2 separate regions of the Homo sapiens genome follow, and region 2 is linked to region 1. A link means that fine-mapping ties the variant in region 1 to the expression of a gene that starts in the linked region. Tissue or cell type: subcutaneous fat. Region 1 holds a variant in brackets; the other region holds the start of a gene. All regions are shown on one strand. Distances are from middle to middle.

Evidence for each region. PIP is the estimated chance that this variant, and not a neighbour inherited with it, causes the effect.
Region 2: it holds the start of MAN1B1, and the variant in region 1 is fine-mapped to the expression of MAN1B1 in subcutaneous fat (GTEx, PIP 0.99).

Annotation. Positions count from the first base shown.
Region 1 is chr9:137,047,979-137,050,654 of GRCh38, reverse strand. It overlaps ENTPD2 (ectonucleoside triphosphate diphosphohydrolase 2), which reads left to right. Exons shown (of 9, transcript NM_203468.3): 6 at 117-371; 7 at 666-785; 8 at 1,580-1,714; 9 at 1,795-2,548. The coding sequence ends at 1,998. Among named protein-coding and RNA genes, the nearest start is that of NPDC1, 3.1 kb to the right of the region's middle. RefSeq lists a silencer at 557-616 and enhancers at 954-1,482, 1,483-2,011. The variant G/C (reference allele first, on the strand shown) is at 1,243.
Region 2 is chr9:137,085,836-137,088,511 of GRCh38, reverse strand. MAN1B1 (mannosidase alpha class 1B member 1) reads right to left here and starts at 1,527. Exons shown (of 13, transcript NM_016219.5): 1 at 1,294-1,527; 2 at 329-437. The coding sequence starts at 1,512. It overlaps MAN1B1-DT (MAN1B1 divergent transcript), which reads left to right and starts at 1,695. Exons shown (of 1, transcript NR_027447.1): 1 at 1,695-2,676. RefSeq lists silencers at 1,164-1,393, 1,944-2,173 and an enhancer at 1,374-1,603.

The DNA of each region.
Region 1 (2,676 bases):
TGGATTGCCCCTGAGCACAAAAGTGAAGTTGCCAGAGTGAGACCTGTGGGAGGTTTGTCAGGCTGGTCCTCTGGAGCGGTGGTGGTGCCACCCTGTCACGCTGGTGATTCCCCCAGACCCACGGCTTCCACCCCTGCTGGCCGAGGGGCTTTTCCACCCAAGTGCTGCTCGGGGATGTGTACCAGTCACCATGCACCATGGCCCAGCGGCCCCAGAACTTCAACAGCAGTGCCAGGGTCAGCCTGTCAGGGAGCAGTGACCCCCACCTCTGCCGAGATCTGGTTTCTGGGCTCTTCAGCTTCTCCTCCTGCCCCTTCTCCCGATGCTCTTTCAATGGGGTCTTCCAGCCCCCAGTGGCTGGGAACTTTGTGGTGAGTAGGGGCAGGCGGGTGGCTGGGAACTTTGTCGTGGGTAGGGACAGGCGGGTGGCTGGGAACTTTGTCGTGGGTAGGGACAGGCGGGTGGCTGGGAACTTTGTCGTGGGTAGGGACAGGCGGGTGGCTGGGAACTTTGTCGTGAGTAGGGATAGGCGGGTGGCTGGGAACTTTGTCGTGGGTAAGGGCAGGCGGGTGGCTGGGAACTTTGTCGTGAGTAGGGACAGGCGGGTGGCAGCAGGTGCTCTGAGCCGCTGGGGTTCGGTCACAGTGTGACTGCGCCCCCTACAGGCCTTCTCTGCCTTCTTCTACACTGTGGACTTTTTGCGGACTTCGATGGGGCTGCCCGTGGCCACCCTGCAGCAGCTGGAGGCAGCCGCAGTGAATGTCTGCAACCAGACCTGGGCTCAGGTGAGCCCCGCTCCCACTCCTTCAGGGCTGTGCGGAAGGGCTCAGCCTCCGCCTCCGCATGCCTCCCCAGCCCTGCATGGACAGGCCTCTCGGAGCACCCGCTGCAGTGGGGGCGATGGCAGGCATTAGGCTGACTCCAGAGGTGGCGTGGCTGTGGCCGGTAGGCTGTGAACAAGTCGGGCGGGTTGGAGAAGCTTCGCCAGGCCCGACCCTCATCCCAGATCTGGAGGGCAGGGGGAGGCCGGTGCCCAGGTTTCTGGCTTCTGCCACTGGTTCCCTCCATGGTACCACACAAGGGAAGATGGAAGTGGGTCTGGGCACCGGGAGTGTGCCCACCGGAGACTCCAAGAGAAACGTACGAGTCGTCCCAGGACCGGGGTGGTGAGCGAGGCCCCATTTTGTCCTCCCAGGGCCTAGTCTCAGACAGACTGGGGTGAGGGAGGTGGGGACAGGCGGC[G/C]AGCCAGCGGGCAGACTCAGGCCTGGAGCTCGTCCTGTTCCCCTGGCCACACACCAAGGTGTTGCTGCCTCCTGCTCCCTGGTGGCCATGCCTGCTGTCCCTCCTCACTGGCCTTCCAGGCATGGGCGCTGGCTGGGGAGGGATGGAAGCGTGCCCTGCCGGGGGTGCCCCTCGGACTCGGTCTTGCCATTCGTGTCCGGGCCTGTGTGGTGGTCTCTGGCCTCGCACGGCCCGTGTGTGTCTGGGGAGGGGTGAAGCACGCCGCCGGCCCCCTCTCCCCGTGGGGCCGAGACCTCCTGGTGGTCGCCTGCCTGACGGTGTCCCGCCCGCGTCCCAGCTGCAAGCTCGGGTGCCAGGGCAACGGGCCCGCCTGGCCGACTACTGCGCCGGGGCCATGTTCGTGCAGCAGCTGCTGAGTCGCGGCTACGGCTTCGACGAGCGCGCCTTCGGCGGCGTGATCTTCCAGAAGAAGGTGGGCTGGGGCGGGGCGGGGCGGGGCCGACCTTGCGGGGCGGGGCCTCTCGGGAGCTGAGGCCACGCCCTTCCCCGCAGGCCGCGGACACTGCAGTGGGCTGGGCGCTCGGCTACATGCTGAACCTGACCAACCTGATCCCCGCCGACCCGCCGGGGCTGCGCAAGGGCACAGACTTCAGCTCCTGGGTCGTCCTCCTGCTGCTCTTCGCCTCCGCGCTCCTGGCTGCGCTTGTCCTGCTGCTGCGTCAGGTGCACTCCGCCAAGCTGCCAAGCACCATTTAGGGGCCGACGGGGGCAGCTGCCCCATCCCTCCCCCAACCCCTGTATCCCCACCCCGTACTCCCACCCCTCCCACAACCCCTGTACCTCCCACCCCTGTATCCCCACCCCTCCACCCACCCCTCTCCCAACCTCTCTCCCCGCCCCTGTATCCTGCATTCCTCCACCCACCCTCTATCCCCCACCGCTCCACCCCACCACTGTCTTCTCCATCCTTCCACCCCACCCTCAGCGTCTCTGCCCCTAAGGCAGCCCAGGAAATAGGAACTGAGACTCTGGTACCCACAGGAGCCTGGGTGGGCAAAGAGCGCTCAATCCAGCTCCTTGAACCCCTCCAGCCCGCTTCAGCCTGGGCATCACTGCAGGCCCCGTGCTCCTCCTCCTCCTCCTCAGGGCTGGGTCTCCAGAGAGTGGGGCCTTGGTCCTGAGAATCAGCCCTTAGAGGCTCCTTCTGTGTAGTCTGGGTCTGTACTGGGGAGGGTCACAGCCCACGGGCTGGCAGCCAGCCCAGCACCTACTTGTAAAAATTTTGTAATAAAAAGTTTTTCCTAGAGACGTGAAAGGAGAGTGTCTGTGGGGTGGGGCATCCTTGCTGTGGCCTGTGCCCCCACCTTCCCGCTGTTCTAGCCGCACGGGCCTGCCCTTGGTCCTGAGGGTGGACACCATCCCTCCCTACTGCCT
Region 2 (2,676 bases), 38 kb before region 1:
TTTCCAAACACACGCTAATGAGTGCTACGAAATTTGTGTGGTTATTTAGGCTGAGTGTTCAAGCCCACCAGCTGACTTACTCTATAAGGGAGGCTGGACATATCAGTACTTACACCAGAGACCTAGAAAGTAGTCAGACAGCATCAAATTAACATCTGTGTTCTAGCCAGGTGGTTACATACAGCTCTACCTTTCTCTTTATCTTGATTTCTTGCCAATTCGTTGCCATATATGCCTCCTGGAGCTGTTTAAGGTAGAATGCAAGATTGCTTCTGCCCAATCAACCCTCAACACAGATATCGTTTTCAAGTACACGTGTTTCTGATACCTTTCCAATGGTCAGCCAAGTTGATGTAGAAGAGGAGTCCACAGAAAAGCAGAAAGGCAAGGAGGAAGAGAATCATATTCCGCTGCAATCTCGACAGTTGCTTCCATTTCTAAGGGAGGTACAGAGAATGACATTTCTTACTGAATATATCACACGGAACGTCTCAACTGTCACAAACTGTGAGGACAATAAGGAATTCTTCTGGAAGATCCAGTGTTCAGCTCTATTTCTTTTTTTTTTTGGAAACAGGGTCTCATTCTGTTACACCTAGGCTGGAGTGTAGTGGGTGGAACGCGGGATGAGCCACCGTGCCCGGCCAGCTCTATTTATTTTGAATGGGGAGAAGTTCCCTCTCAGCAGGGAGTAGGAACATTGCTGGGACAATACTACAGATGTCGTTAATACAGTGGTGCAGATGAGACGAGGATAAGAAAAAAGCAGAAACATTTCTGTCACATTTCATCAACAGTGGAGAAAGACTCCTGCGACTCCCACAGATGTAGCCCAGGCACCGCCCAGGCGATGCACAGTCCGCATGTGGTTATCAATGCCCTTCGGCCTGAGACCACCACGAACAGACCAGGAGCCAATCAAGAGGGGCTCATTTCTCACTGTACCGAGGGGAGCATACACCACGGGGAACCTCCGGTTTCCGCTCCAAGAGGGGCAGGCGCCTGGGCCAGGACCTTGCAGAAAAGCGAACGAAGCCCAGAAAACCTGCTGGGGCTCTGAGCCCTCTTCCCACCACCGCCCCGCAGAATTTGGGCCGCTGAGACCGCTGCAGGCGAGCCGCCCACGGCTGCCCCAACCAGGAACGCACATTTGCCCCTTTTTGCGGGGAAGGGGTGGAGAGGGCGGCGCCTGGGGAGTCGAGTCCGCCCGCCCAGGTCCCGCTCGGAGCCGCAGTCTGGGAGGGCGGCGGGCACGGCAGCCCCGGGCCCCAGTCAGCCCGGCGCGACCCTCACCCTCCAGCACGAGCGCCGCCGCCAACTCTTGCTGTTGTCATAGTTCTCGCCAAAGCTCAGCGTCACCGAGATGAAGTCCCGATGAGGCGGCGGCGGCGGCGGTGGGTACATGACTACAGTGGTGGCGACGGCCCAAGGGGCCCCGCCCACTGGCGGCGTCAGGAAGTCCGACTGAGAGGAACCGAGAGCTCCGCTTCTCCTGCCCTCGCAGGCAGCCATCGCAGCGCCGTCAACAGCCCGCCCATCACACGGATACGCGACTGCGCGTGCGCTGCGTCTCTATGCGGCCAGTGCGCCCGCGCCTGTCTCCGCTGCGCTCCAGCGTACGGGGCTGCGTCCTACGGCGACTGCGTCAGACAACTGCTGCGACTCCGCCCTGCCCTCAGGTTCATTGCGCATGCGTCCGGCAGCGCCTGCCCAGGTGTGCTACGAGCGTAGCTGTAGCAACGGGGCGGGCCTTGGTTCGCCTGGGGCGTGGTCGCTGTCTGGGGCTCCCACGTGGTTCGCCTCATGGGCCTGGAGCTGGGCTTCTCTCGCCTCCTGTCGTCTGGCTGCACCGACTTTGCCCACGCCCTCACGGGAGACGCAGACACTAGGGACCCGGGGAGGCGCCCGGGCGGGGCCGCCATGTTGGCAGAGAGTCCCAGCGTCCCGCGCCTCGGTTCCGGAACCCGCGGCGCGGGGATGGAGCTGGGCTGCCCTTGGGCGCCGTCCTGGGCTGGTGCCCACCCTGGCCGCGTGGTCACCGGCAAGAAGCCCAGGGCCTCACCCAGGCGTGGGGGCCGGGGGAAGGACCGGACCCTCCCGAAGTCGCGGACCAGGCCGGGCGGCACCCGGGCTGGGGTGGCTGCTACCCCGAGCTAAGCTGGCTGCGCCGCATCTCACGGTCCCCGGGGCCCGAGCGCTGCGCCTGGACCGGCGCCGAGCGAGGCGGCCAATCGGCCGGCTGGACCCACAGTCCCCGCGCCATAGGCGGGTCGGGGCTTTCAGACCCGGCTCCCAGCCCTCGAACTCGGTAACCTTGGAGGTCAGCTTGAGATGACTGCGCTTCCTGCACGCGTTGTCCTCCCCAGAAACGCCCAAAATGGCAAAGCGGCGTCCGTGGCCGCCCGAGGCCCTCCCTGCCTGGGTTCTCCCCAGCCGAACCTCACGCCCGGCCCCTCCTTCATTCTCTCCTGGCCAGGCTGCTCCTGCCCTTGGGCGAATCCGCTGCGTCCCACGGTCCTGACTGTGGCATTTCTGCGTGTCTGGAGAGCTCCCCCGGCAGCGACGTCCTGCTTAGCACGTGGCTCGTCTAACTCTGTTCCCCTGGCCTCCTGCTCTTCTAGGGGTCATCTTTAGGTTTCTGCTGGTCTCTGCCCCCTGTGACACTTGCTGGTACCC